Regions from separate parts of the Homo sapiens genome. Here region 1 is linked to region 2. Evidence: fine-mapped expression QTL. Tissue or cell type: tibial nerve. Region 2 holds a variant in brackets; the other region holds the start of a gene. All regions are shown on one strand. Distances are from middle to middle.

Evidence for each region. PIP is the estimated chance that this variant, and not a neighbour inherited with it, causes the effect. A credible set is the group of variants that fine-mapping cannot tell apart.
Region 1: RITA1 starts here. The variant in region 2 is the best candidate, but not a certain one, in a credible set for the expression of RITA1 in tibial nerve (GTEx, PIP 0.63).

What each region holds. Positions count from the first base shown.
Region 1 is chr12:113,179,700-113,189,845 of GRCh38, forward strand. It overlaps RITA1 (RBPJ interacting and tubulin associated 1), which reads left to right and starts at 6,022. Exons shown (of 4, transcript NM_032848.3): 1 at 6,022-6,322; 2 at 6,486-6,617; 3 at 6,984-7,349. The coding sequence starts at 7,048. It overlaps DDX54 (DEAD-box helicase 54), which reads right to left and starts at 5,779. Exons shown (of 20, transcript NM_024072.4): 1 at 5,579-5,779; 2 at 1,230-1,359; 3 at 236-306. The coding sequence starts at 5,752. RefSeq lists enhancers at 5,596-5,675, 5,713-6,362, 6,363-7,013, 7,014-7,663 and a silencer at 6,166-6,305.
Region 2 is chr12:113,321,955-113,332,100 of GRCh38, forward strand. All of the region lies in intron 2 of SLC8B1 (solute carrier family 8 member B1), which reads right to left. Among named protein-coding and RNA genes, the nearest start is that of SLC8B1, 8.1 kb to the right of the region's middle. RefSeq lists a silencer at 537-737. The variant G/T (reference allele first, on the strand shown) is at 4,330.

The DNA.
Region 1 (10,146 bases), 140 kb before region 2:
GAGGTTCAGCTGTGGGCAGCCTCCAGGAGGCTCAACTGGCAGAAAGGCCCAGAGTCTCTGCTCGGCTCGGCCCAACCTTCTCCACCTAGGAAGTGGGCACGCTAGCTGGGGCTTCAGCAGAGTAAAGGGGGCAGGAGATGTGACAGGTGGGACAAGGGGTGGCTGTCAAGGGGCCAGAGAGGAGGGCCATGTCACTCCTCCCTCGCCCTCACCCGTCGACCGCCCCACCCCTCACCTTCCTCTGGATGGGTGTTGGCACCTTGTACCCCTTCTTCATGATGCCTTTGAACACCGGGTAGCTCAGGCCTGGGAGAGACATGAAACGGTCAGGGGGCCGAGGGAGTCCCCACAGCACCAACCCCAGAGAACTTTACAGGACAAATGACAGCTTCATCAACAATAAACAGCAAGGGAAAAAAAAAAGCAATAAAGCACAAACTGAAAGGTGAAATGAGACTTAGGAGACAGATCTGACTGGGGCACCTGAACCTTATCTGATTTTCTGATGTGAACCCACTCTTGATGTCATGAGACAGCAGGGATCTCTGAACACTAACGGGGTCTTAGGTGACACTAAGAAGCTGTGCCTTCGTTTTAGGCGTGGTAAGGTCCTGCGCCTCTTGGAAGTGTGTGTGGACACAATGAGGATGTCTGGAATGAACTTCAGAATCACCCGGGTGTGGGGAGGGACTCTTGTCCCTCTTGGTGGTGAGGGCATGGATGGGAGCTCACTTTGTTGCCCAAGCTGGACTTGAACTCCTGGCCTCAAGTGATCCTACCTCTGCCTCCCCAAACGCTAAGATTACAGGCATGAGTCATCGCACCCAGCACTCATCTTGATATTTAAATCCTTGCTCCAGCTGCTACTGATTTGTAAAGAGTAACAGAGTCAGGCTTTATTTCTGGCCAGCCAGGTGTCCCCACACCACCCACCCATTCCATCCTTTCCCTCCTTCTGAAATGTCCCTCTGCAGGCAATAAGTCCCCGACTGTCTTTGCCTGTTCCTGCATCTGCATTGCCTTTCCTGAGGCCTGTTCTAACTGCCCTCTCCTGTGTCAGGCCCGCTGCCCCACTAGAAGGCCCTGAATGACTGGAGGACCACATCTGCTACCCCGGTCTACCCAACCACAGTGCTGGGCCCAGAGTGGACATCAGTGATGGAGTGCAGAGGCGGGGTTGACCTCCAGCTGCCACTCCCGCAGAGTCCCTGATGCCAAGTTGCACCCACCCATGGACTGGAAGCCTCCAGACTTCTTCTTCTTCTTGTTCTGGGCACGCACCATCTCCCGGGTGTCCGGCTCCACATCCGAGGTGCATTCCGAGGTGGGGAAGGTGGGCAGGGGTCTTCCAGGTCCCAGCTGGGAGGGAAGGACAGAGAGGTGGTGTCACTCCAGGCACAGTGGGACCACAGGGGGCAGGGAAGGGGCCTGTGCTGTTGCCCTCTCTCCCCCATTCAAGCCAATGATGCTTCCGCCAGATCACGTCACTTTTTTGCTAGTAAGTTCTCCTTTGGCTGGGCCAGGACAGAAGTTTAGAGTGGGGTCTGCAGATAGACTGTCTCGGTTTGAATCTCAATCCCAAAAGTAAGTACATTTTTTTTTTTTTTTTAAGAGACAGGGTCTTACTCTGTCACCCAGGCTGGAGTACAGCAGTGCAGGCATGGCTCACTGCAGCCTTGAACTCCTAGGCTCAAGTGAGTCTCCCACCTTAGACTTCTGAGTAGCTGGGACTACAGGCGTATACTACCACATCTGGCTAATTTTTTTATTTTGTATTTATTTTTTTTTTTTTGTAGAGATGAGGTCTTACTGCATTGCCCAGGCTAGTCTTGAATTCCTGGCCTCAAGTATTCCTCCCTTCTTGGCCTCCCAAAGTGTTGGGATTACAGGCATGAACCACCACACCCAGCCCCTAAATACATTAAAGAGCCAATCGAAATGCCTACTATATGTGAAGTACTAGACTTTTCCAAGATCTCCCGCCCCCTACCCCCGCCCCATCAGCCGCCAACCAATCTCCTTTCTGATCTCTGGTCTGTCTCATGCCTGGCCTCCTTTCTGCTCACCCAGGACCCACTTGTCCTGGCACAGCTAAATCCAATCCAGACACCTCCTCTGGGGAACCTTCTTGGACTACAGGGCTGTCCCCTTTCTCTTAAAAATAGCATTCATGGCCAGGCGTGGTGGCTCACGCCTGTAATCCCAGCACTGGGAGGCTGAGGTGGGTGGATCATTTGAGCCCAGGAGTTCCCAGACTAGCCTGGGCAACATGGTAAAACCCCATCTTTACCAAAAAAGAAAAAAAAAAAAGCATTTACGGAGCAGCAATTCATAAGAGTGGCTGAAACTTACAAGGTATCTACTATAAGCTAGGTGCTGCTCTGAGAATTATACAAATTAACCCACTTAATCCTCACAACAATCTGATGAAGTGGGTACTATTGTTCTGTCCATTTTACAGAGAAGAAAACTGAGGCACAGAGATACAGTGACGTGCCCAAGGTCACACAGCCAGCAGGTAGTGGGTGAGGGATGTGAACCCTGGCTTCAGAGACTGTGTTCTTTTCACTGTGACCCTCTAAGATTAACTACAATCCTCTAGGGCAGAGCCATGGCCTGTCTTGAACAGTCTGTGAGTTTAGAACGGTTTTTACTTTTTAAAGGGTTGTAGAAAAGAAAAAGAAATCCAACAAAAAAGACAGTGATCTTATATGGCCCAACAAAACCTAAAAAAAAGATTTACCATCTGGCCCTTGATAGGTCTGCCAACCCCTGCTCTAGGTACATGAAAACAAGGTGCCTGGGACACACAGGCGCCTGCAATAGCTACTGAATGTATGAACAGCATGTCCTTCAGTCTTCTTCTTTTTTTTTTTTTGAGACAGTCTCGTTCAGTCACCCAGGCTGGAGTGCAGTGGCAGGATCTTGGCTCACTGCAGCCTCCACCTCCTGGGTCCAAGCAATTCTCCTGCCTCAGCCTCCCAACTAGCTGGGACTACAGGCACATGCCACCAGCCCGGCTAATTTTTGTATTTTCAGTAGAGATGGGGTTTCACCATGTTGGCCAGGCCGGTCTCAAACTCCCGACCTCAAGTGATCCGCTCACCTTGGCCTCCCAAAGTGCTCGGATTACAGGCATGAGCCACCACGCCCAGCCTCCTTTGGTCTTTTCAACACTTTTTTTTTTTTTTTGAGACAGAGTTTCACTCAGTCTCCCAGGCTGGAGTGCAGTGGGGCAATCACGGCTCACCTAGCTCAGGTGATCCTCCCACCTCAGCCTCCCAAGTAGCTGGGACTACAGGCACACACCACCATGCCTGGCTAATTTTTGTATTTTTTGTAGATGCAGTCTCGCCATGCATGTTGCCCAGGCTGGTCTCGAACTCCTGGCATCAAGTGATCCTCACTCCTCGGACTCCCAAAGTGCTGGGATTACGGGCATGAGCCACGGCACCGGGCCAACAACCTTTGAAACATATATAATCATTTACTTGCCTTCTACGGATGTGGAAACGGGCACAGAGAGGTTAAGCAACCTCTCCAATGTCCCACAGCCAGTGCAAGGTTGGGCCAAATTTGAACACAGGGCAGTGCCGTGAGAAGCCCTTGGTCTGAACTACACTTAGACTCCTCTTCTTTGGTAATAACCACCTCTGCCCGCCTGTGCTGTTCATTACCTTTAGTAGTTTCTCTACATTTGTTGAGCACCTACTGTGTGCCAGGTACTGGCTAGGCTGGAAGATGAGAGAGGGACAGTGGGATGAGGTCTCTTCTAGTTCCTGCCTTGGAGTGTGATCCTTTCTCTTCATATAAATGTCCACTTACTCATCTTGCCCTGAGCCTACCTGGTGCCAGGCACCCGCTGGGAACAGGACTGTGGGAAATAATGGGCGCAGCCCTTCTGCCCCATTGGTGCTCACACCCATCCCTTCATGTGCATACACATGACATTCAGTAATGGAAACGGCACAGGCCTTGGAATCAGACAGTCTCAAGTTTGAATCTCCTGGCTCTTGTACTCACAAGCTGTGAGGTCTTGGTCAAGCTGCTTTCTCTCTTTTTTTGTAAAGATGGGATCTCCCTTTTTTTTTTTTTTCTTTTTTTGGAGACAGAGTCTTGCTCTGTTGCTTATGATGGAGTGCAGTTGTGTAGCCACAGCTCACTGTACTCTCCGCCGCCCAGGTTTAAGTGATCCTCCCACATTGCCTCTCCAGGAGGTGGGACCACAGGTGGGCGCCACCAAGCCAGGCTAATTTTTATTTTTTGAGACAGAGTCTTGCTCTGTCACCCAGGCTGGAGTGCAGTGGTGCAATATCGGCTCACTGCAACCTCTGACTCCCAGTTTCAAGCGATTCTCCTGCCTCAGCCTCCCGAGTAGCTGGGATTACAGGCACATGCCACCACACCTGGCTATTTTTGTATTTTTAGTAGAGACAGGGTTTCACCATGTTGGCCAGGCTGGTCTTGAACTCCCGACCTCAGGTGATCCGCCTGCCTCAGCCTCCTAAAGTGCTGGGATTACAGGCGTGAGCCACCGCGGCCATCCTAATTTTTTAATTTTTTGTAGAGACGGGGTCTGCCTATGTTGCCCAGGCTGATCTTGAACTCCTGACCTCAAGCAATCCTCCCACCTCAGCCTCCCTAAGTGCTGGGTTTACAGGCGTGTAGCCACTACACCAGGCCTTTGACTATTTCTTAACCCTCTAGGCCTCAGTTTCCTCCTGTAGAAAAATGAAGATGACAGTTGCTGGTGGTGTTAGCACAACGTTGGTGTGAGGATTAAATAATAAGGCTCGTACAGCTCTTAGCATGGAGCCTGGCACATAGTAAACGGTCAACAAACACAAACTGGCCGGGCTCACGCCTGTTAATCCCAACACTTTGGGAAGCAGAAGTGGGAGGACTGCTTGAGGCCAGAAGTTCGAGACCATCCTGGGCAACATAGGGAGACCCCCGTCTCTACAAAAAATTTAAAAATTATCCGGGCGTGGTGGCGCATGTCTGTGGTCTCAGCTACCGGAGAGGCTGACGTGGGAGGATCGCTTGAGCCCAGGAGGCGGAGGCTGTAGCAAGGCGTGGCTACACAACTGCACTCCGGCATGAGCAACAGAGCAAGACTCTGTCTCAAAAAAAATTGTTTTAATTCGTTTCCCAGAGGTTTGGAGGCGTCACACTGTCTCAAGCCACGCAGTCTGGCCTCCCCTTAATTCAACCTCCCAAGAACGCTCCAAACTCTCAAAGTCAGATCTTCTGCACCCGCACTTTTCATTGGGCGAAAGGGAGCCAGGATCCGCCCCACGAGCAGGAGGCAGCCAATGAGAGACGCGCGACCAAAACCCGGCAGGAAGGCCCGCAGGCTCCAGCCCCGGGATCCCAAGGCTCTGGCCGCGGAACCCTGAGCCTGACAAGCCCCGAGACACGTGCTCAGGCCGGCGGTCCCAAGACCGGTCCTCGGGTCGGCAGCCTCCCTCCCCACACTCTGCGGAGCCCAATCCCCAGCTGGGGAAACTGAGGCCTCGAGGCGCTGCCCGGAGCCGGGTCTCGGGCCCGAACATGCGTCCCAGCCCCACGCGCCTACCTTCCGGGCCCGGGCGTCATCTTCCGCCTGGATCTCAAACTCGCCGTCCTCCGAGTCGCTGCCGCGGGCCTGGGAGGCCGCGCCTCGGCGCTTCCGGAGCCCTTTCTTCTTCCTCCACTGGGCCATGGCAGCTCGCGACCGAGGTCCAGCCGCCGGGCCCTTGTCGGCCGCCATTCGGGCCGCGCGCTGGGAACGCAGAAGGGGGCGTGGCCTGAGGAGCGCACCAACTGCGTGGGGGGGGGGGAGGTGCGGTGACCACGTGACCTCCGCTGAGCTTTCGCCAGTGCCTGCGGCCCTCGGCGGCCTAGTACACACGCACCTGAGTGAGTGGCACCAGAGGACCCTCTCCATGTTTAGGGACCTCCTGGGCCTCAGGAGCGTGGCGCCCGCCCCTGGGCGGACTCCCCCCATCCGCGGGCGCGAATGGTCCGGGCCGCGTCCGCAGTGCTGCTGGCTGCTCCCTGGTTGCTGGGTGCAAAGTGCTGGGTTCTGGGTTTCTGGATTCGCGGGCCGTTCACACGTAGCCTGTGCCGGCTCCTCGGGTGAGTCCGTCCGCGCGCGGTGCCCCGGGACGGCCTAGGCTGCCGGGGGTCCGGGGCCCCAGGCATTCCGGGCTGCAGATTGACGGGGATCCCGGATGCACCGCGCGCCCCCGCGCCCTCACCGACGGGTCCAGACCTGGTGGGAAGAAGGTGCGGGGACGGGTCCCTGAGGATCCCGATGCCTACGAGCCAAGATGCTCAGGTAGGAGAACAACCCAAAAATGCAGGGACCTCGGGCACTTTTTAATCGGGTCATTGATTTGGGAGTCGCAGAATGTGGGGCGGTGGGGGCGGCGGTGATCTCCCGATAGCAGTGTAGCCAAGTACACAAGCTCTGGACTCAGATTTCACTTCCACCGTTTTAGCTTTATAGGTGTGACCTACACATGTGACTTCACCTCAGTTTTGTGATCCGTAAAATGGACAAATTCGAAGCTACTTCACAGTGCTGTTGAGAGGATTAAATGAAACAATGCTTGTAAAGCTCTTTGCAGGAGGTAGGCATGGGATCCACGCTGGCTGTCATTGCCCCCACCCCCATCAGTACACATAGGAAAGTGCCTGTCTCCCCTACCACCATAGTGTGTTTTCTGGTTGGTGCCTAAATAGACACAGGTGTCATCTCTCCTTCACCGCCAGAGTCATTCTGTAAATAATTGCCAGTAGCCCCCCTTTCACCACCATTATGACAACTAAAAAAAAGCCAAAGAAATTTCCAAAATGCCCCCTGAAGTTGACAGCTCCCCTTTGAGAGACTGGTTGAGAGAGAACTAAACCCTTGGGATGAGAACTTCAGACACTACCGGTCTTCCTCCATTAGCACTTCTGTGGCTCAGGGGTGCTACTCTGACCTCCTCTCACAGGGAGCCTCGGAAGCAGGGCCTGGCCGGCAGAGCACACCTGCTGTCACCAGGGACCACAGGCAGCATGAAGACCCCCGTGGAGCTGGCCGTCAGTGGGATGCAGACCCTCGGCCTTCAGCACCGCTGCCGAGGTGGCTACCGGGTCAAGGCCAGGACGTCATATGTGGATGAGACTCTGTTTGGCAGCCCAGCAGGCACCCGGCCTACCCCACCGGACTTCGATCCGCCCTGGGTGGAGAAGGCTAACAGAACCAGAGGCGTGGGCAAGGAGGCATCGAAGGCCTTGGGGGCAAAGGGGAGCTGTGAGACCACCCCCTCAAGGGGCAGCACCCCCACCCTCACACCAAGGAAGAAGAACAAATACAGGTAATGGGGTAGGGAGATGCAAATCCTGTACTCAGTGCAGCCACCTGGATTCCAGTTACAGCTCTGGTGTTCACCTGCTCTGTGACCTTGGGCAAGCATCTTGACCTCTCTGAGCCAGTTTACTCATGTGGAAAATAGGACCAATTATTCCTACCTAGGGGGATTGTTGATGGATTAAATGAGAGAGGGGTCTGCAGTGCTTCGCACAGTAACCTAATACTTAGAAAGCTGTCAATAAATGGTAGTGTTGATGGTTGTGATGGTGAACTCCCTATCCCCAAATGTCACAAACTGGGCATCTGAGGCCCAGAGGAGTCAGCTGAGGCATAAGATCACAGAGAAATTTGCATAAGCTTATTAATATTAATGTGTTCGATCCTTGAAATGACATAGATGTGGTGTTTCTGAAGTCATTTTGAAAATGGGTTTTGGCCACATGGGGTAGCTCATGCCTGTAATCCCAGAACGTTTGGAGGTTGAGGTGGGATCACTTGAGCTCAGGAGTTTGAGACCAGCCTGGGCAGCGTGGTGAAACTGTGTCTCTATAAAAAATGCAAAAATTAGCCAAGTGTGGTGGTGTGCGCCTGTACTCCCAGCTCCCGGGAGGCTGAGGTGGGAGGATCACTTGAGCCTAGGAGGCAGAGATTGCAATGAGCTGAGATCACGCCTCTGCACTCCAGCCTGAGTGACAGAGTGAGACCCTGTCTCCAAAAAAAAAAAAAAAAAAAAATTGAAAATGGTTCTTGCTGCATTTTTATGAACAAGTTAGAAAAATAGGAACTAATGCAAATTGTTATTGTTGTTAATTAATTAGATTAGAATTAGATTATTTGGACTGTTTCAGATTAATATCAGCCTGGAGGGAGGTGTCTAGTGGTGAGCCACAGGGCTCTGTCCTGTTTATTGTTATCAGTGGTTTGGACAAAGACACAGAAGATTAGCACAGTAGTTGGCTAGGGCCACCATGACAAAATACCACAGACTGGGTGGCTTAAACAACACAATTTTTTTTTTTTTTGAGATGGAGTCTCGCTCTGTTGCCCAGGCTGGAGTGCAGTGGCACGATCTTGGCTCACCACAACCTCCACCTCCCGGGTTCAAGCGACTCTCCTGCCTCAGTCTCCTGAGTAGCTGGGACTACAGGCACATGCCACCATGCCTGACTTAATTTTTTTTTTTTTTTTTTGAGACGGAGTTTTGCTCTTGTTGCCCAGGCTGGAGTGCAGTGGAGCCATCTCAGCTAACCTGAACCTCTGCCTCCCAGGTTCAAGCGATTCTCCTGCCTCACCCTCCCTGGTAGCTGGGATTACGCCACCATGCCTGGCTAATTTTGTATTTTTAGTAGAGACGGGGTTTCTCCATGTTGGTCAGGCTGATCTTGAACTCCCGACCAGGTGATCCACCTGCCTTGGCCTCCCGAAGTGCTGGGATTACAGGCATGAGCCACCGCGCCTGGCCACAACACAAATTTATTTTGTCACAGTCTGGAGGCTGGAAGCCCAAGATCAAGGTGTTGGCAGGTTTGGTTTCTCCTGAGGCCTCTCTCCTTGGCTTGCAGTTGGCCACGTTCTCACAGTGTCATCATAGGGCCTTTTCTCATTTTTTTTTAATCCTTCAATTACATGCAAGGGCCTTTTCTGTATACACACACACCCCTGATGTCTCTTCCTCTCATAAGGACACCAGTTCTATTGGATTAGGATCCCCTACCCTTATAATGTTATTTAGCCTTAGTTACCTTTTTTTTTTTTTTTTTTTTTTTTTTTTTTTTTTTTTTTTTGAGATGGAGTCTGGCTCTGTCGCCCAGGCTGGAGTGCAGTGGCACCATCTCGGATCACTGCAGCCTCCACCTCCGGGTTCAAGGAATTCTCCTGCCTCAGCCTCCCGAGTAGCTGGCATTACAGGTGCACGCCACCATGCCTGGCTAATTTTTGTATTTTTAGTAGAGACGGGGTTTCACTGTGTTGGCCAGGCTGGTCTCAAACTCCTGAGCTCAAGTCGTTCTCCCGCCTCTGCTTTCCAAAGTGCTGGAATTACAGATGTGAGCCACCATGTCTGGCCAGCCTTAATTACCTTTAATTAATCTAAATAATTAAGGCCAAGTGTAGAGACATTTGGGGTTAGGGCTTCAACATATGAATTTGGGTGGGCACAATTCAGTCCATAAGAACTGGCCAGCTAAAGTTAGGGTTCATTCTGAACCACAGGGACATATTTCAGATGAGAGAAATGAAATGAGAATGGGAATGATACCTATTATAAAAACAAGAATCAGTTATTGCCAGTTCTGTAGACAAGGCAGGGTCAGGTGGAGATTAGCAACACTGATACCTACAACATGGCTGAAAACACTGAGGTAAAGATAGGCTGCATTAGGAAGTATGGTGTCCATGAAAAGGGAGGTGACAACTCCTTGCTCACCTGGAGGGTGGAATTTTCTTCTGGATGCCAACAGGTAGAGGGTGTCAAGTGAGGGGTTGCATAAGAGGTAGAGAAGTTATTGAGCAAAAACCTTGGCACCAGACATATACAGGCATTAGCCAATGTGGTTTGAGCAGCTAAACCAAGTGGCAAAAGCTTGCCCTTTCAAAGACTTGCAGTTTGGGGATAGAAGCACTTTCAGTCCTGGCCAAAAAAACTATGGGCGTGGAATCTTGCAGGTATGCCGTGAATATCTGTTGAATAAAAAAAAAAAAAAAAAAAAAGGCCAGACAGGCTGACTCAGGCCTGTAGTCCCAGCACTTTGGGAGGCTGAGGTGGGAGGATCGCTTGAGCTCCAGAGTTTGAGACCAGCCTG
Region 2 (10,146 bases):
GGTTGAGGTGGGAGGATTGCTTGAACCCAGGATTTCAAGACCAGCCTGGACAACATAGCAAGACCCCATCTCTGCAAAAAAATAAAATAAAAAATTAGGTAGGCATGGTGATGTGCACTTGTAGTCCCAGCTACTCAGGAGACTGAGGTGGGAGGATCACCTGAGCCCAGGAGGTTGAGGCTGCAATACTGCATTTAGCTTGGGGAATAGAATGAGATCTTGTCTCAAAAAAAAAAAATATGTATCTCAATTACTCTGCACAACAGTCTGCGAGGAAGGAACTATTATCATGCCCATTAAACAGTTAAGGAGACTGAGACAATGTCCGTGTGCACTCAGTGGGAGGGTCAAGGTTGGAACCCAGGCAGTTTTAGGCTCTAGGGCCCACTGTTCTCCCCTGCCTCCCCACAGAGTCTTTCACTGCAGCAGAGTATTTCATACTATGGGTGATACATCACTGAGGTAAACATTTCCCTACTGGGCATTTGGGTATGCCTAGTTTTTCAATATAGCCAATGAGCTTCCTCACACATGACTCTCTGAGCACATATGAGAAAAATGTTGTCAGAGAAGATTTGAGAAGAGAAAGTGCTGAATCAGAGGGTATCCTGGTCTGGGTTCCTCCAGAAGCTGACTCAGAGACAAAGATTGAGATGGACATAGTATGTTTGGGAGACCTGAGGAACACAAACATAGAGAAAGGGAAGTGGGCCCGGGTGTGGTGGCTCACGCCTGTAACTGTAGCATTTTGGGAGGCCAAGGCTGCAGGATCACTTGACCTCAGGAGTTCGAGACCAGCCTGGGCAACATGACAAAACTCCATCTCTACAAAAAATACAAAAAAAACTAGCCGGGCTTGGTGGCATACGCCTGTAGTCCCAACTACTCAGGAGGAGGAGGTGGGAGGAGCACCTGAGCCTGGAAGTTCAAGGTTGCAGAGAGCTATGATTGTACCACTGCAGTCCAGCCTGGGTGACAGAGTGAGACCCTGTCTCAAAAGAAAAAAATAAAAGAAATAGGAGAAAAGAAGTGGTACAGAGAAGGGATAGCTGCCAACGAAGGCTGGGTTGAGCCAGTTACCACCACCATGAGCTTAATCAGGAGGCAAGGGAGCTGGGATATTTATACACCAACTCTCATCAGCCATTGGGTGAGGACTGCTAGATGGAGGTTTTAGTTCCCCAGCACCTCTAGCCTACTATGCTTATAAGTGGTTCTAGAACAATAAACTGGCAACTGGAAGTCAACAAAAGCCCACCAAAATAGTACAGTCCAAAAGAAATGCTCAAGGCCCTGACAAGGGATCTTCAACATTGCTAGATTTTGCCAAAATGCCCTGGCCAAGCTCTACCTACATACACTCCCACCAGGAATGGGAAATAAGCAATTCTCATAAGCCTGCACCCACATTGGCTATGAGCAGCCTTATTCAGATCAATGTGATAGGAATGTCATTGTTAAACTGCAAGTCTGGCCAGGTGTGGTGGCTCATGCCTGTAATCCCAGCACGTTGGGAGGCCGAGGTAGGCGGATCACTTGAGGTCAGGAGTTCATGACCAGCCTGGTCAACATGGGGAAACCCCGTCTCTACTAAAAATACAAAAATGAGCCAGGCGTGGTGACATCCACCTGTAGTCCCAGCTACTCAGGAGGCTGAAGCAGGAGAATCGCTTGAACCCAGGAGGCAGAGGTTGCAGTGAGCCAAGATCATACCACTGCACTCCAGCCTGGGTGACAAAGTGAGACTCCATCTCAAAAAAAAACAACAACAAAAAAAGCTAAGACAGTAAATTTTAGGTTATGTGTATTTCATTATAATTTTTTAAAAGCTTTGTCAAACCACAGTTCCACCTCCTCCACAAGCCCTCTCTGAACTCCCACTAACACCAGACTGGAAGTGAGATTTCTTATCTCTGAGCCTCTGGCCTTCTCACCAATTTTTGCTAAGAGCTCTACCCACCCATACAGTATCCCCTGAGCAGAGACTGAAACCCCCAGCCCTGCCCCAACCCCTCAATCTTTCTACAGTGTCCTGTCCTCAGAAAGCACATGCCAGCTGGGAAGATGAAATCTGTGGCCAGGTAAACTGGCTCACACCTGTAATCCCAACACTTTGGGAGGCTGAGGCAGGAGGATCGCTTAAGCCCAGGAGTTTGAGACCAACTTGGGTAACATAGTAAGACCCCATTGCTACAAAAAAATTTAAAAATGAGCCAGGCATGGTGGCACACGCCTGTGGTTCCAGCTACTTCAGAGGCTGAGGTGAGAGGATTGCTTGAGTCTGGGAGGTTGAGGCTGCAGTGAGCTATGATGGCACCACTGCTCTCCAGCCTGGGTGACAGAGCAAGCCTGTCTCAAAAAAAAACAAACAAACAAAAAAAAAAACTTTTCTTTTTTTGAGATCAGGACAACCTGAGCATAATACCCACTCAGCCACTCAGCTCTACCTTTTTTTTTTTTTTTTTTTTTGGAGACAGAGTCTCCCTCTGTCACCCAGGCTGGAGTACAATAGCACAATCTCGGCTCACTGAAACCTCCACCTCTCGGGTTCAACTGATTCTCCTGCCTCAGCCTCCCGAGTAGCTGGGACTACAGGTGCCCACCGACACGCCCGGCTAAGTTTTGTATTTTTAGTAGAAATGGGGTTTCACCACGTTGGCCAGGCTGGTCTCAAACTTCTGACCTCAAGTGATCTACCTGCCTTGGCCTCCCAGAGTGCTAGGATTACAGGTGTGAGCCACTGCGCCCAGCCCCTTTTTTTTCCTTTGAGACAGAGTCTCACTCTGTCGCCTAGGCTGGAGTGCAGTAGAGCAATCTTGGCTCACTGCAACCTCCACCTCCTGGGTTCAAGTGATTCTCCTGCCTCAGCCACCTGAGTAGCTGGAACTACATGCACACAACACCACACCTGGCTAATTTTTGTATTTTTGGTAAAGATGAGGTTTCACTGTGTTGGCCAGGCTGGTCTTGAACTCCTGACCTCAAGTGATCCACCTACTTCAGCCTCCCAAAGTACTGGGATTACAGGTGTGAGCCTCCATGCCCAACCAGCTCTACCATCTAAGAGCTGTATCTGTAGCAATTCCCTTCCTCTCTTTGAGCTTCAGTCTCATTTGTAAAATGGGACTAATTATACCAACCCCATTGATAAAAGAATCAAATGAGATTACAGGTGTTCAAATTTGCCCTCCTCAGAGACTTTCCATGTAAAGTAGTTATTACCCCTATCTCCACTATTAATACCCAGTTTTCTGCATTCACAGCAGTTATCACAATCTTTATTTTGTTCATTTCCTTGTTTACTGAATTTTATTATTTTAGAGACCAGGTGCTTTGTCACTCAGGCTGGAGTGCAGTGGGGCAATCATGGCTCACTTCAGCCTCGAACTCCTGGGCGCATGTGATCCTCCTGCCTTTGCCTCCCAAGTAGCTGGGACTACAGGCATGCACCACCACACCCAGTTAATTTTTTTAAAAATTATTTTTTGTAGAGATGGAGGTCTTGCTATGTTGCCTAGGCTGGTCTTCAACTCCTGGCCTCAAGCCATCCTCCCACCTCAGCCTCCCATTGTGCTGGGATTATAGGCGTGAACCACCAAACCTGGCCTTAATTTTTTTTTTTTTTTTTGAGACGGAGTCTCGCTCTTTCGCCCAGGCCAGACTGCAGTGGCGCTATCTCGGCTCACGGCAAGTTCCGCCTCCCAGGTTCACACCATTCTCCTGCCTCAGCCTCCCGAGTAGCTGGGACTACAGGCGCTCGCCACCACGCCCAGCTAATTTTTTGTATTTTTAGTAGAGATGGGTTTCACCGTGTTAGCCAGGATGATCTCGATCTCCTGACCTTGTGATCCACCCGCCTCGGCCTCCCAAAGTGCTGGGATTACAGGCGTGAGCCACCGCGCCCAGCCCTGAATTTTTTTTGTCTGCATTCTTGTATTTGCCCTGAGCCTGGCCTGTAGTAGGGGCTTAATACATTTGTGTTAATGGCTGCTTGAATGACTAAGTGATTTTGTGTAGCCTTTCCAACACTCCTGCGAGGCAAATGGAATGATTCCCCTTTAACATATGGGTAAGCCAAGGGTCAGCAAACTTCGGCCCCTGGACCACATCCAGCCCACCATCTGGTTATGCACAGCCTGCAAGCCAAGAATGATTCTTACATTTTTAAATGGTTGGGAGACATAAATCAAAAGAAGAATTTTCCATGACATGTAAAATTATATAAAACTCAAGTTTCCATTTCCATAAATATTTACTGGGGCACAGCCACACCCATTCGTTGATGTACAATCTGTGGCTACTCAGGCACTGTGAGAGCAGTGAGTAGTT[G/T]TAGAAACCATGTAGCCCACAAAGCTGAAAATATTTACTGTCTAGCTCTTATTCTATTCTTTCTTTCTTTTCTTTTTTCTTTTTTATTTACTTATTTATTTTGAGACGGAGTCTTACTCTGTTGCCCAGGCTGAAGTACAGTGGTGAGATCTCAGCTCACTGCAACCTTTGCCTCCTGGGTTCAAATTATTATCCTGCCTCAGCCTCTGGAGGAGCTGGGATCACAGATATGTGCCACCACGCCTGGCTGATTTTTTTATTTTTAGTAGAGATGGGGTTTCACCATGTTGGCCAGGCTAGTCTCAAACTCCTGGCCTCAAGTGATCCACCAGCCTCCGCCTCCCAAAGTGCTGGGATTACAGGTGTGAGCACTGTGACTGGCCTCTTTTCTTTCTCTCTCTTTTTTTTTTTTTGAGACAAGGTCTCACTGTTGCCCAGGCTGGAGTGCAGAAGCATGATTATAGCTCACTGCAGCCTCAAACTCTTAGGCTTAAGGAATTCCCCCGACTTCAACCTCCCAAGTGGCTGGAGCTACAAATGTGAGCCCACAACCCGGCCCTACTATCTGGCTCTTTACAGAAAGTCTGTGCCCCAGGCTGGAGTGATGGTGTGCACATCCCAACCCAGGCTTGGGAATCTCCATCAACTATTCCCACCAAAACATGCAGATGCAAGTCTCAAGTTTCTGTCCTGAGCTTCCCTTATCCCATCCCCAGCTCCCACCCAAAAGCAACAGTCAGGCTGGGCTCCTTCCATACTGGGAGGGGGAGGGTTTCAGTCTTGCCCTAAGCCTGGGCCTGTGGCTTTGCTGGGGCCCAGGAATTTCCCAGGGAGATAAAGTCACCCAAGGGGTTTCTGACAAAGAGGGTCCCACCCAGCACAAGGAGGAAGGACACTAGATGGGGGCCAGGGAAGCAGGCGGGCTGCCATTTCCTCCTCTGGGAGGAACAATAATAATCATATTGGGAGGCAGTACAGCTCCCTCTACTGAGCCCTCCTCTCTCATGAAACTGCCTGGTTGAAATTCTAATTTGCGTCCTTCTAGGTGAGTGATTTTGGGCAAGTAAATTAACCTCAGTGTTCTCCTCTGAACAATGGGGGCAATAACACCCACAAGCCTAGACAGGAATGGGATAAGGACATGGAGGCCAGGCATTGTGGCTCACATCTGTAATCCCAGTGCCTGAGCCCATGAGTTTGAGACCAGCCTGGCCAACATGGTGAAACTCCATCTCCACTAAAAATATAAAAATTAGCCAGGCACGGTGGCGTGTGCCTGTGTTCCCAGCTACTCAGGAGGCTGAGGCAGAATAACTTGAACCCGGGAGGCGGAGGTTGCAGTGAGCCAAGATCACACCATTGCACTCTAGGCTGGGCAACAGAGTGAGACTCTGTCTCAAAAAAAAAAAAAAAAATAGGCTGGGCGCGGTGGGTCACACCTGTAATCCCAGCACTTTGGGAGGCCAAGGCAGGTGGATCACCTGAGGTCAGGAGTTCGAGCCCAGCCTGACCAACATGGTGAAACCATCTCTACTAAAAATACAAAAAGCCGGGCATGGTGGCAGATGTCTGTAATCGCAGCTACTTGGGAAGCCAAGGCAGGAGAATCGCTTGAACCCAGGAAGCAGAGGTTGCAGTGAGCTGAGATTGCACCATTGCACTCCAGCCTAGGCAACAAGAGCGAAACTACGTCTCCAAAAAAAAAAAAAAAAGGTTGCATTATCATCATCTAAGTTTTAATTATTTATTTATTTATTTATTTATTTAGAGACAGGTTCTGTCTATGTCACCCAGGCTGGAGTGCAGTGGCGTGATCACAGCTCACTCCAGCCTCAACCACTCAGGCTCAAGCAGTCTCCTACCTCAGCCTCCTGAGTAGCTGGCACCACAGGTGCGCATCACACGAGGCTAATTTTTAAATTTTTTGTTGAGAAGGGGTCTCGCCTTGTTGGCCAGGCTAGTCTCAAACTCCTGGGCTCAAGTGATCCTCCCGCCTCGGCCTTCCAACGTGCTGGGATTACACAGGTGGGCCACCAAGCCTGGCCAGAAATTTTTCTCTCTTAAACAATACTTGAATTCATCCCTTCCTTCCATCTCCACCAGCACGGAGAACAACTGCAGAGGTTCTCATCTGGCCTCCTACCCCCAATCTTACCAGAGGGGCTCTTTCTAATGTGCTCCCTCCTCCAGCTGCTGAAGAGCTCTCCTTTGCCTGTTTTTGGTCCCTGTGTTCTGCCCTTGTCAGTCTCCAGTAAAGCTCGTCTGGTCAGCTGTCAGGTCCTGGAATGCCCAGACCCTCCTGGCATTGGTCCAGCTTTTGTACATGCTGTTCCTTCTGCCTGGTGCCACGATTATTTTTCCTCTATTTAATCCACATTCACCACCCAATTCTTGGTTCCCAGGACACTTCTTGCAGGAAGCCCTCCCTGACTACTCCCAGCCTAGCTGGCCCTCCCAGTTACTTTTTTTTTTTTTTTTCCTTTTTTGAGATGGAGTCTTACTCCATCGCCCAGGCAGGAGGGCAGTGGTATGATCTCAGCTCACTGCAACCTCCATCTCATGGGTTCAAGAGATTCTCCTACCTCAGCCTCCCGAGTAGCTGGGATTGCAGACGTCCACCACCATGCCCAGGTAATTTTTGTATTTTAGTAGAGATGGGGTTTTGCTATGTTGGCCAGGCTGGTCTCGAAATCCTGGCCTGAAGTGATCCACCTGCCTCGGCCTCCCAAAGTGCTGGGATTACAGGTGTGAGCCACCGCACCCAGGCAGGATCATAGACTTGCTTAATATCTGCCCCTCCCACTAAAGTCTCGCACAGTGCCTGGCAGAGTAGGCCCTCCTAACAGTTGTGCTGCACACCGTGCTGGGCATCATCTCACCCATTCAGTCTTCATCAGAGACCCAGGAGGTTGGCACAATTGTTTCCACTTCACAGATGAGAAAACTGAGGCACAGAGAGGCAAAGTGGCTTGCCCAGGAGCACACAGCCCACCACTGAGAAGTGGCTCCAAACTCAGCTCCGCCTGAAAGTTACTCGCTGAAGCTCCTGAGGAAACTGCCCAACTGGGCAGGGGCAGCCTCCATTTCCTGTCCTCTCACTATCTTCCTGCCCTCCCTCCTCCCTGTCCTCGGGGTCAGCTAGGGAGGATGCAGGGAGTCACCCCATCTCCCTGATGGCAGAGTGAGTCAGCAAGGTGGGTCCCCCAAATCTGGCCTCCAAAATCACATTACTGTGCAGTCTGTCTCGCTCTGCCCTCCCCGAGCTGCACAGCCCTCCCCCAGGTCCCTCAGGACCCCTCCCCAGCTCTCTGCTCAAGAGAGACAGAGTAAGGTGGGATTGCTCTGCGTCTGGGGGAGGGAAGGAGTGACTTCACTTCCTTCCAGTCCTTCCCACCCTCTTTCCTATGTCACTAACTCAGTCCCAGGAAACCCAAAGAGGTGCACACAGAGGTCAGGCTGGACAGGAAAGGGTAACCAACTCAATACCTTGGAATTCTTATAAAAACTTACATCAGATCACATCCTCTTGTGCTCTAAAGCCTCCCATGGCTCCCACCTTCCTCCCACTGACAGCCAAGTCTACAGTGGTCCCCAGGGCCCCTGTTCTCTCCTGCCTGGTCTCCCTTCCTTCTCCCTTGCTCACTGTTCCAGCCACTTTGCAAAATCTGTCATTCTGCTCCTGCCCCAGGGCCTTTGCATCTACTGTTCCCTCACTTCCCCTGGATCTTCATAAGCCATTCAGGTCTCAGTCTAAATGTCATGTCCTCAGAGAGGCCTTCCATGATAGCCTAAGCAAAGCAGCACCCCCCTCCCCCTCACCCTGTGGAATGATTTGTCAACTTGCTTCTCATCCATGACCCCACTAGAGTATAAGCTCCAGGGGGGCAGGGACCAGGCTCTCTGCTTCCTGCTATCCCCTCAGCACATGGCACAGGCCCTGGCACATAGTAGGTGCTCAATAACTATTTGTTGCATTAATGACTACTTGAAAAGGACCTAAGGTAAGGGGCTGGGGGGGCCTTTCCCAGCCTGCAGGCTCCCTGGATGGTGGGGACTTCCAGAAAGGCAGCTGCCCCATCTGTCCTGTGAGGCGGTGGACTAGAGGGGAAGGGGATGGATTTAGCATGAAGCAGCCAAGGGTTCTCATCCTGGCTCTGCCACTTTCCTCCTGGCCACCTTCACCTCCCTGAACCTTGGAGTCTTCATCTATAGCACAGAGATAATCACTCCCACCTCACGGGGTTTGGGGGAGGACTTGTGGGCACAAGGCTGATCTAAGTGCTCAATAACTTGGAGAGATTATCTGGCACAATTATCTGGTATGATCTCCCAGTTTTCCTGCCCCCAAGGAGCACGCTCCAAGAGGGGGTACTCAATTTTATAACCACAGTAACCACAAACCACTTTCCCATCTGTAAAATGGGCTTAATTGCCTGTTGCCTGTTTCACAGGGTGGACTTGAAGGCACTTTGCAGCCTCATAAAGTTGCTGTGGGCATTGAATGCTCTCAGCCCATCAGTTTGAGTTTGGGATTCCTGCTGAAGAAATGGTGAGAACTCCAGTCCCTGGCAGCTACAGGGCACTCCAGGGGGTCATCTTGAGCAGTCCTCTGCTTTTGTTCCTTCACTCCAGATCTGCTGTGACCTCCTCTTCTCCCCTTACAGACATCAGAGCGGAAAGATGCAAGTTCTCTGTAGCCTGTCTCAACAGGCTGTGCCCTCCCTGCCCTGGGAGGAAGGCCTCTTGCCTCTAACTCCAGCGTCGTCATTGGTCCTCCCTCAGTGCTCCCCATTCAAATCACAGCACCAGCACACCCTCAGCTGATCAGGCCAGGAACCTGGAGCCATCCACAACTCCTCTCTTTCTCCCACCACTGGGAGAAAGAGAGAGGGTGGGAGTTCAATACCAGCCTGGCCAACATGGTGAAACCCTGTTTCTACTAAAAATACAAAAAAATTAGCCAGGTGTGGTGGTGTGCACCTGTAATCCCAACTACTCGGGAGGCTGTGCATAAGAATCGCTTGAACCCGGGAGGTGGAGGTTGCAGTGAGCTGAGATCGTGCCATTGCACTCCAGCCTGGGTATAGAGTGAGACTGTTCTCGAAAAAAAAAAAAAAAAAAAAAATTGAGTCAGTGGACTGGGAAAAGCAGACCCACCCTCAATCTGGGTGGGTGCAATCTAATCAGCTACCAGCACAGCCAGAATAAAAGCAGGCAGAAGAATGTGGAAAGACTAGACTGGCTTGGTCTTCTGGCCTGCATCTTTCTCCCATGCTGGATGCTTCCTGCCCTCAAACATCAGACTCCAAGTTCTTCAGCTTTGGGACTCTTGGACCTTCAGCCACAGACTAAAGGCTGCACTGTCAGCTTCCCTGCTTTTGAGGTTTTGGGACTCAGACTGACCTCCTCGCTCTTCAGCTTGCAGATGACCTATTGCGGGACCTCACCTGTGATCATGTGAGTCAATATTCCTTTAAAAACTCCCCTTTACATATACATCTATCCTATTAGTTCTGTCCCACTAGAGAACTCCGACTAACACAGATTTTGGGACCCTCTGCTTAAAACCTTCCATTGGCTCCCCACTATCGCAAAACAATTCTCACCTCCTAGCCGCAGCCTGTAAGGCCTTTTGTAATCTGCCCGCCATTACCTCTCCATCCTCCTCTCTTAGCATTCTTCCCCTCACTTGCTCTGTTCCATCCATTCTAGCCTCCCTGCTGTTACGGGAACACACTAAGCTTGTTCCTGCTCCAGAATCTTTGTACTTGCTGTTCCCTTTGCCCAGAATGCTCTTCCCCGGGGTGTCAATGTAGG